3 linked regions of the Homo sapiens genome follow. The protein of the gene in region 1 purifies or fractionates together with the protein of each later gene. This does not show direct contact. Each region holds a gene or a part of one and is shown on either strand. Other genes may lie near its edges.

Evidence for each region.
Region 2: the proteins of CD5 (region 1) and RASA1 purify together in Homo sapiens (affinity purification with western blotting; one study listed by BioGRID and IntAct). This does not show direct contact.
Region 3: the proteins of CD5 (region 1) and ZER1 purify together in Homo sapiens (affinity purification with mass spectrometry; one large-scale study listed by BioGRID and IntAct). This does not show direct contact.

What each region holds. Positions count from the first base shown.
Region 1 is NC_000011.10:61,115,989-61,119,488, reverse strand, and holds part of CD5 (T-cell surface glycoprotein CD5 isoform 1 precursor), read right to left. Parts: intron 1,315-3,500; coding exon 1,009-1,314; intron 575-1,008; coding exon 512-574; intron 256-511; coding exon 1-255. UniProt on the Homo sapiens protein: Lymphoid-specific receptor expressed by all T-cells and in a subset of B-cells known as B1a cells. Plays a role in the regulation of TCR and BCR signaling, thymocyte selection, T-cell effector differentiation and immune tolerance.
Region 2 is NC_000005.10:87,372,383-87,375,882, reverse strand, and holds part of RASA1 (ras GTPase-activating protein 1), read right to left. Parts: intron 1,721-3,500; coding exon 1,563-1,720; intron 1,044-1,562; coding exon 967-1,043; intron 1-966. UniProt on the Homo sapiens protein: Inhibitory regulator of the Ras-cyclic AMP pathway. Stimulates the GTPase of normal but not oncogenic Ras p21; this stimulation may be further increased in the presence of NCK1.
Region 3 is NC_000009.12:128,765,428-128,768,927, forward strand, and holds part of ZER1 (protein zer-1 homolog), read right to left. Parts: intron 1-3,500. UniProt on the Homo sapiens protein: Serves as substrate adapter subunit in the E3 ubiquitin ligase complex ZYG11B-CUL2-Elongin BC. Acts to target substrates bearing N-terminal degrons for proteasomal degradation with the first four residues of substrates being the key recognition elements.

The sequences.
Region 1 (3,500 bases):
GGATCTTCCATTGGATTGGCAAGGGCTGGTGTTCCCGTGGCTCCCCTGGGTCTTGGGCTCTGCCTGCCTCAGTCTCTGGCAGATGCTTCAAGAAGGAGCCACACTGGAGGTTGTTGCAGAGGAAGTTCTCCAGGTCCTGGGTCTTGTCCTGGGCCTCATAGCTGATGGTACCCCCCAGGCTGCCGCTGTAGAACTCCACCACGCCGGCACAGTGCTGGCCGCCAGACTGTGCCACCAGCTGCAGCCTGGGAGGAGCTAGGAGAGGAGAGAGCAGGAGGGGGAGCCACCCTGAGCGCCGAGGGCTTCCTGGGCACTCCTTGCTGTTTGGCCCCAACTTGTGGACAACTACTGACTAACGCTTAGCCTTGGGAGGTGATGGGGTCCCAAATATTGCGTAGAACACACCAATACTAAACATTTCCACCTTTGTCAGAAATTCCAATGTAACTGGGCATCCTGGGTTTTTATTTGCTAGCTCTGACTCCCTGTGGGGGGTTCAGAATCCTCTTACCTGTGGGCTCTGGAGTTGTGGTGGGCGGGGGCCTTGTCGTTGGAGGTGTTGTCTTCTGGGGTTCTGCAATGAGACACTCTGGTGAGGGAGGAATGGGTGGTGTGGGGAGGGCCGGGGGCAGCCAGCAGCCTTGAGAGGACCAGGAGCTCCTGGCATGAGTGCCGCTTGGCACACCAGGTCCACTTGACCCACACGTTGTCTCTAAGCCTCCTGCGAGGCGGGAAGTACCACCCCACTTCACAGATGGGAGAATGGAGGTTCAGAGGCGACGATGAAGTCAGTGATTGGCAGAACTAGGTCCTCCATTGCCATCCTACAGATGGGTGCTGGCCCCTTCCAGTCCCCCTCCTGGGTATGTGTCTTGGGGAGTGGTTATAAACTGGGGTCCCCCCACCCCTTCCACCAGCCTGCTCAGACCCTAGATCACAGGCCTCGGGCAGTCTCCTCGGGGCTGGCGCCCAGGCCCAGGGTGCCCGTGTGGCTGGCTAGTTACCCACCTAAGCAGGTCAGGCCCAGAGAGTGACACATGTCATTTCTGCTGTGGCTGCAGTTGGAGAAGGAGCCCAGTTGTCCGTAGCAGATGATTGAGCTCTGAGGTGTGTAGGTGACAAGGAAGGGGCCAAGGCTTAAGGGCACCCCACAGTTCAGCCGCTGGCAGACTTTTGACGCTTGACTGGGGTCCTCCCACTGCTTGGAGCTCCGGCCCCAGCTCTGGCTGCAAACCATGTGCCATCCGTCCTTGAGGTAGACCTCCAGCTGGCCCTGGCACTTCGAGTTGGAACGGGTGAGCCTTGCCTGGAAATCTGGGGGTCAGAAAGGTGTGGTGGGGGTCAGGCTGGGAGGGGTTCCCCACTGGCACCCCTCACTGCCCTCTCCCTAGGACGCCCAGTTGAGCTCCCTCCTGCCCCGTGGGCTGCCTGCCTTGCCCCTTGTGAGCTTCGTCCCTTCTGGGGCACTGCAGGGGCTTCCCAGAGGACCCTGACCCAGGCAGCCCCGAAGCTAGACCCAGGAGGGTGGGGCTCCAGATTTCAGAGTCAGAAGGGAGCTCAGATAAATGGGCAAGGTGTTCTCGGCACCCACTGTCCAGCAGGATGGCCCCTGTCCTGGAAATTCTGTCTCAAGGGGTCTGAGATTGGGGCTGGTGTCTGCTTTTTAAGAGATCTTTAAAAATTAATTTTAGGCCAGGTGTGGTGGCTCATGCCTGTAATCCCAGCACTTTGGGAAGCTGAGGCGGGCAGATCACCTGAGGTCAGGAGTTTGAGACCAGCCTGGCCAACATGGTGAAACCCCATCTCTACTAAAAAAAGAAAAAATACCAAAAATTAGCTGGGTGTGGTGGCAGGCGCCTGTAATCCTAGCTACTCGGGAGGCTGAGGCAGGAGAATTGCTTGAACCCGGGAGGCAGAGGTTGCAGTGAGCCAAGATCGCGCCACTGCACTCCAGCCTGGGTAACAGATCAAGATTCCATCTCAAAAAAAAAAAATTTTATTGAGGTAATTTTACATACAGTGAAATGCACTCATTTTAAGGATACTGTTCGATGGAATTTGACAAATGTATACATGCATGTAACCACCACCATAATCTAGATATGGAACATTTCCATCATCTAGAAAGTTCCCTAAGGCCCCTTTATAGTTAATTTCCCTGAATCTAGCCTCAGGCAAACACTGATCTGCTTTTTGTCACAAAAGATGAGTTTTGCCTGTGCTACAATGTCATAGACATGGACTCATACAGCATGGATTTTATTTTGTTTGATTTGGCTTTTTTCGCTTAGCATGTATTTGAGATTTAGCTATGTCACTGGACGCATAAGTAGTTCATTCCTTTTTATTGCCGAATGATAGTTCACTACACGGACATGCCAATTTGTTTTCCATTCACCATTTGATTTGTTTCCGGGTTTTGCCTACTATGAATAAGGCTGCTGTGAACATTCACATACAGGTCTTTGTGTGGGCGTTTCCATTTCTCTTGGGTAAATACCTAGGAATGGAATTGCTGGGTCATGGGTAGACATGTGTCTTGTGTGATTTTATCAAACTCCATGAGGGGAAAAATATATGTGTGTGTGTGGTGTGTGTGTCTGTGTGGTGTAGTGTGTGTGGTGTGTGTGATGTGTGTGTGGTGGTGTGTGTGTTGTGTGTGTTGTATGTGTGTGTGGTGTGTGTAGTGTGCAGGTGGTGTGTGTGTGTGGTGGTGCGTGGTGTGTGTGGTGTGTGTGTGGTGTATGTGGTGTGTGTGTGGTGTGTATAGTGTGCATGTGGTGTGTGTGGTGTGTATGTGGTGTGTGTAGTGTGTGTGTGTGGTGTGTGTGGTGTGTGTGGGGTGTGTGTGGTGTGTGTGGTGTGTGTGTGGTATGTGTGTGGTGTGTGGTGTGTAGTGTGCATGTGGTGTGTGTGGTGTGTGTGTGGTGTGTGTGGTGTGTGTGTGTGGTGTGGGGTGTGTGTGTGGTGGTGTGTGTGTGTGGTGTGGTGGTGTGTGTGGGGTGTGTATGTGGTGTGCGGTGTGTGTGTGGTGTTTGTGGTGGTGTGTGTGTGTGGTGTGGTTGTGTGTATGTGTGGTGTGTGTGTGGGGTCTGTGTGGGGTGTGTGTGTGTGTATTTGCATAAAGAGCTCCTTGAAGAATATGCAAGAAACAAATAAACGTAGTCATTACCTGGGGTGTTGGGGTCGACGTCGGGGGCGACTGGGATAGACGGGAATAGAGATGGAAGTGAGACTCTTCACTACAGATCTTTTTATATTTTTTTAAATTTTTGAGCTGGATGAATGTGTCACTGATTCAAGAAATTTTTAGAAATGTGAAAGGCTCTCCCAGGTGATTCTGAGGGGGAGGTTTTCCCTGGTCGGGAACCACGGGTCAGGCTACCCTTTTCTTCCGACGAGGACACTCTGGGGCCAAAGCTCAGGGCCAGGGCTCGCCAAGGGCACTTGGCTGGTTAGAGGGAGAACGAGCGCGTCTCAACACCTAACATTGGTGGGGT
Region 2 (3,500 bases), on another chromosome or scaffold:
AAGTAATGGAAAACTAAAATTACTACAAAAAACTACAGAATAAACATTTTATAGAGAAATATTCAGGCTTTGATCTGTTAATACATATCACTTCCTTCCCTAAGCCTGAGTTTTAAGAAGGTATTAACCTAATTCACCCTGATGTGAACTGGTAAATCTCACTGTCAACTGTTTTAGCAGCAGGATGGAAGGAGCTGTGCTGCTGAGGACAGGAACTGGGAGCCTTTGACTACCAGAAGTGAATAAGTGACATATTCAAGTTTAAGGGAAATTTTTAAATAGAATAAATGACATTCAAGTTTAAGGGAAATTTTTAAATAGAATACTTTTTTACTTATATGGTAATGTAATCCCAGCATTTTGGGAGGCCGAGGCCGGCAGATCACCTGAGGTCAGGAGTTTGAAACCAGCCTGGCCAACATGCTGAAACCCCGTCTCTACTAAAAATACAAAACTTAGCCAGGTATGGTGGCGGGCGCCTGTAGTCCCAGATACTCAGGAGGCTGAGGCAGGAGAATTGCTTGAACCTGGGAGGCGGAGGTTGCAGTGAGCCGAGATCACACCACTGCACTGCAGCCTGAGCAACAAGAGCAAGACTCCATCTCAAAAGAAAAAAAAAAGCAGGAAAAACCTAAAAAGTAGAAAGAAGGGATGAGGGCAAGCCCTACAAAAAGACCACTGTAATCATTTCCTTATTCTTCCTATTCATTGGAGAAAGGAGGGTGGCTAAATATTTTAATCTTAATTGCTTAACAGTGTGTACAGTTGAACCATATTGGTCTTTTTCTATCTTAGGTATATTCTTTCTTGATAATCAATACTTTAAGAAGTACAGAAAGAAACTATCTCAAATTATACTACTTGCATTTCTGTTTTTTTAATTTCTATTTTAAGACTTTCATTGTGAATTTTGAAAGTATATAAAACATGCTTTTTCTATTTTAGAAAGTTTCTGTATCAACTTACAGATATCAGGATCTTTGCTTTTCTTTGTTTTATTACTAAGAGTTATTTCAAATCTATTGATGTCAGGAGGAAGATCACTAAAGGAGCAAGGAGAAAAAGAATTAACAAAATGTTTTGGCATCAAACTACCTTATTTCTTTAGTTCTAGTATCAAATAAACCCCCTATTTCTGCTTTAAAAAAAAAAACAGTGTGCTAGACCTAAAACCAGATTCACAACATATTTTATTATTTGGTATACAGAAGACACGCAGATTACACACTTTTCCTACCATCTTTAACCTCCTAAACTAATAATTCATTCAAATAAGTACTGGAAACCCTAGTAAATGTTTTGTATTTGTGGGTTAGTAAATGTTTTTTGACTTGCTAATTCATGTTAATAACTAAGTGGAAAAACCAAGGGCATAGCACTTCACAAATAAAGGTGAACAAACAACAGAAAAAAAAAAAAAAAATATATATATATATATATGCTATTAGAACACCTGGATATGGTACCTTGTTCTGATGGTTTAGATACAGAGACCAAAAAAACAGAAAGAAATGCAATATGGTAAAAGAAAATGATTAATGTAATGATAAAATAAGACTTACTCAAAGACAAACTCTTCTGACCATACTGGGTTTTGCCCTTCCCTTGCATGAGTTTTTGCTACTTGGACACTATTCAGGTAGATGTTACAATATGGATTAGTAAAATGTTTTACTGGGAGTTTATGGGCTTCTTCAATATGTAAAACAAGGCTGCTGACCTAAAAAAAAAAAAATATATATATATATATTACCCCAGATTTCTAGAATTGCACTACATTTCAAAAGCAATTACTCTAAGATACAAAGCCAAAAATAATGACTTATTTTCCCCTTTTTTTTCAGAAAATGTGAGCTTTGGTTATATATTTGTATATGACATACTTAAAACATTCAGACATTTAAAATAATTCTTCCCACCTAAAAGATAAAAACAATGCAATTTTATTTTACAAGTTATTTCTCCCAGTATATTCCTGGAGAAATAATGAAATACACCTTTTCTACCATAAAACAATGATAAAGAGAAAATGAAGTTAAGAAGAAAATTCTTTATTAATATAAGTAAACAACTGTCACTACTCAAATTAAAATCCCGTATGTTATATAATACTTATCTGGAAGATTCTATTTCTATAAAAGAGTTCCACAGCTAAAAATTTTTAAAACACTGACTTTACCTTCTTATTTTACAGGAAAGGATACAAACCTAAAGAAACTAAGTTATTTGTTAGTTTGGATGCCAAAACTTAGACCATCCACCTTCTAGTATCAGGTTCTCTTTCTCTCTTGCCATATACTACTTGTGTGGCCTTGCACAAATCCGTCCCTCTAAGCCTCATCTTTCTAATATGTAAGTATAAAGTCTACACTACAGGTTGTAATAAGTATTACAAACTAGTTATCCCTCAGTATCTGTGGGGGACTGATTCCAAGACCCTCCACCTCTCTGTCCTGGCAGCTAACGAAGCCCAAGATGCTCAAGTCCCGTATAGAAAATGACATAGTATCTGCATAAAATCTATGCATGCCCCCCTGTATGCCGTAAATCATCTCTAGATTACTTGTAATACCTAATACAATGTGAATGCTATGTACATAGTTGTTATACTGTATCTTTTTATTGTATTTTTTCGACCCATGGTTGGTAGAGTCCACTGATGCAGAACCCATGAATAGAAAGGGCTGACAGTATATGTAAATCACTAAATCACACTGCCCACTGATACATAAAAAGTGCTTGAGAGATGTTAGCTATGATTATATTAAACCTGCAAATGTCATTTTAATGGCTCAAGTTTCACACAAAATACAACTTGCTCTTATTAGCAAAAATCCAATCTGATTTTTGATAGCTTACAAAATGTTACAATGTTATGAAGACATGGCGATTGTGTGTATACTTAAATTTCCCTGGGGAAGAGCCAGACTTTGGGTTACAGGGACTATTTAGTCACCTAAATATCAACCATTATCCACTCCCAGTAGAACAGTATGTTAATCACTCAGCTTATCAGATATTCGCACAAAGAGAACAGGAGACACTTTGGTTAGTAAATAAATATTGTACTAAACTTTCTTTAAACCTTGAGAATGTCAAAATTTGCCTAACTTCTTCCAATTATACAGGGATTACTAAAAAGAAAAAAGCCAAGAAATGGAGGTTATAAAGTTACCCTTGTAAAGGCAAAAAAAAGAGAAAGCCTAGCTTAACTCTCCACAAATCTCAAAGTATAGGGCATGTTACAGTTTCAAATAAGATTAAATATTTCCTAAGAGTTAAGCAGTAGGTTTTAAAAGCTGTTCTTCAAAATGAAAATCCCAAAAAAGTTTATTGGGATTAGTGCTATAAATCTGATGATCTTTTCAATGTTCTACTTTTTTGAAAGAGGCCAAAATAAGTTTTTGAAGGAAAATTAAGTGCCCAACAGAACCGTTTCTGCTGTGTTGGTTTAGTGTTGTTATTTAAAGTGGAAGAATAATCTTTCTTATGTTTTTAAC
Region 3 (3,500 bases), on another chromosome or scaffold:
AAGCTTGCCTGAGATCACAAAACTGATGAGAGTGGGATGCAAACCTAAAGCAGACCCCCGCTTCTCACCAAATATTTGGTCTTCAGTCCATCCATCCAAACAATGGGAGGGAAAGAGAAACTGAAGTCTGGAGGTGGGAGCATGGGATCCCACCAGTGTCCTGATACCCAGAGGACAGAGAGGTTGGGGGAGCCAGAAGCTCTGAGCCTTGGAGCAGTACTCACCCTGTGAAATATTAACCTAGGAGCTGGGGGGAAAACCCAAACAAATGCCCTATTTACAGAGGCTAGACGCTTTCCAGGAGGCAGCAGATCAAGGGCCAGAGACTGGGGGTGTGAGGGGAGTCACAGCAAGTGTGGGGATCTCCAGGTGGTCGGGAAACAGGTGAAAACCAGACGCCACCTGGCTCTGAAAAGTCTGCAGAGATTAAATCTATGAGTTGGGTTATGTCAGAAAGATGCAGACACACAATAATTGGGGAGTGTGCCTCACAGCTAGGTGGCTGCTCATGATGCTGGAGACAGAGAGGCCTTGAGGAGGCTGCATTCGGCTAGTAATCAGACTGGTTGGGTTCTATTCTTGTAACCAAATGTATTAATGATCCTACCCATACTGAATACCAAGTATATACCAAGAATTCTGGCTGGGCGTGGAGGCTCACGCCTCTAATCCCAGCACTTTGGGAGGCCAAGGCGGGCGGATCACGAGGTGAAGAGATTGAGACCATCCTGGCCAACATGGTGAAACCCTGTCTCTACTAAAAATACAAAAATTAGCAGGGCGTGGTGGCGGGCGCCTATAGTCCCAGCTACTCAGGAGGCTGAGACAGGAGAATTGCTTGAACCCGGGAGGTGGAGGTTCCAGTGAGCCAAGATTGCACCACTGTACTCCAGCCTGGCAACAGAGCAAGATTCCATCTCAAAAAAAAAAAAAAAAAAAGAACTCTGTTAAGTATTTTATATGTGTTAATTAATTGAATTCTCTCAACACCCAACAAGGCAGGAGTTACCATCTACAACTTACAGAAAAGGCAGCTGGAAGGAAGGGGCTATGGCTATGCAATTTGCCAGAGACTATGGATCTGAACAGACAGATATGTACACAGGTAGTTCATTAGTTCAAGACGCAGTGTGTCAGGCTGGGCACAGTGGCCTACGCCTGTAATCCCAGCACTTTGGGAGGCCAAGGCAGGTGGATCACCTGAGGTCAGGAGTTCGAGCCCAGCCTGGCCAACATGGTGAAACTCCATCTCTATTAAAAATACAAAAATTAGCCAGGCATGGTGGCGGATGCCTGTAATCCCAGCTACTTAGGAGGCTGAAGCAGGAGAATCGCTTGAACCTAGGAGGCAGAGGTTGCAGTGAGCCGAGATTGCACCACTGCACTCCTGCCTGGGTGACAGAGCAAGATTCCGTCTCAAAAAAAAAAAAAAAAAAAAAAAGACCCAGTGTGTCCAGCTTTCCAAGCAGTTCGCATCAAAGTCACAGATAACTTATTTATTTATTTATTTATTTTTCTTTCTTTTTTTTTTTGAGATGGAATTTTGCTCTTGTTGCCCAAGCTGGAGTGCAATGGCACAATCTCGGCTCACTGCAGCCTCTGCCTCCTGGGTTCAGGCAATTCTCCTGCCTCAGCCAACCAAGTAGCTGGGATTACAGGTGCCCGCCACCATGCCAGGCTAATTTTTGTATTTTTAGTAGAGACAGGGTTTTGCCATGTTGGCCAGGCTGGTCTCGAACTCCTGACCTCAGGTGATCCACCTGCCTCGGCCTCCCAAAGTGCTGGGATTACAGGTGTGAGCCACTGCGGTCGGCCTATTTATTTATTTTTCTTTTAAGAGACAGGGTCTCACTCTGTCACCCAGGCTGGAGTGCAGTGGTACGATCTCAGCTCGCTGCAACCTCCACCTCTCACGTTCAAGCAATCTCCCACCTCAGCCTCTGGAGTAGCTGTGACTACAGACGTATACCAACAGACCTGGCTAATTTTTTTATTTTTTGTAGCGATGAGGGCTCACCATGTTGCCCAGGCTTGTCTCAAACTCCTGGGCTCAAGCAATACGCCCACCTCAGCCTCCCAAAGTGCTGGATTACAGGTGTGAGCCACCGCACCCAGCTGCCACAGATAACATTTTATCAATATGATAATACATTATCATTTTGTTTCCCAGATAAGGAAACAATGGTTGAAAGATGAGCAATGAGTTGTTCCTCCGGTAAGTGTGTGACCCTAAAGTTCGAGCCCCTTGCCATTATGCTATGGGGAGGGACCATTTCTCCAACCTCAGCTTTCCCTTCTGTTCCACGAGCCTCCGCCGCTTCCTTACAACTCAGGCACTGAGCTCACATGATCCAGTACTGCTGGTAACCACTCCGTGGCATGTCATTTTTTGGCCACAGCATTGAAAGCTTCCTGAGGGCAGGGACCCTATGTGATTTCTGGGGTCTCCATTACAGAGTATGTGAGTGGCTCAATGCCAGTGACAGGGCCTCGGCTCCACAAGATCCCCAGCCAATGTTTTCCAGCCTCAATATTTATCAAGGTCCTTACCTGTCAGCATGTTGCGAGTGGCACACGCTGTGTTGCGCGTGTTGTGAACAGGGTTGCTGAGGAGATGCCATGAAAGGATGGCAGGAAGGTGGTAACCAATAATTATGAAGAGTGATGTTCCTGAGAATAATGCTTCAAGAGACCCTTCTGCATCTCTGAAGCTGGAAAATCAGTTTCAGCGATTGCGCCAGATATAAGACAGTGGTCCACAAATAGATAACCAGACAGGGGTCTCTGCACTCACCTCTCAGGACTCCAGAACAGATGAGGTACTGAAGCCAAGCAAAAAAACCAGAGTGCCAAGAGCAGTCTTCCAGCTAGTGGGCCCCCAAAACGTGTCTGCATAATCCTAGTGGTACTAATGATAATACCTTTGTAGAGAGCTTCAGAACACACCTAATTCTTTCACAAGCTGTGTCTCATTTCATCCTCCCAACAGCCTTTAGAGTTAGTCGGAGGCAAGGGAAGGCCATTATTCTTAATCTACAAATAGGAAAACTGAGGCCCAGAGAGGAGATGGAACCTGCCTAACTCACACAGCAAGCCAACAGCAGAGCCGGGATTTGAACCAGGTCCGCAGGTCACCAGCCTGGGGTTCTACCCACAACAGCCTACCCCAACATGCTGGCTCTCAGCTCCTAAGTGCTCTGACCTTTCATTTTCAAATTCTCTGGCCCAGTTGCCCTGCTCAGCCTGTGTCCCAGGCCTGAGGATATAGTCCGGGCTTGGGGTATAAGGAGGGAGATCAACTGTGGTTCTGCTTCCTATAAAGCAGGCTGGAAAGTCTCAGCCTCTGCCGGGCACTTCCGGATCACCAGCCTCTACCCGTAGATCAGCCACGCACACTCCAACCACATATCTAGGCCCAGCATACACTGCCCCTCCCCACCTGTCTCCAAGTCACATTCATTTCAACACCCTCATTTTGCCTATTTTACGTGGTAGAATGG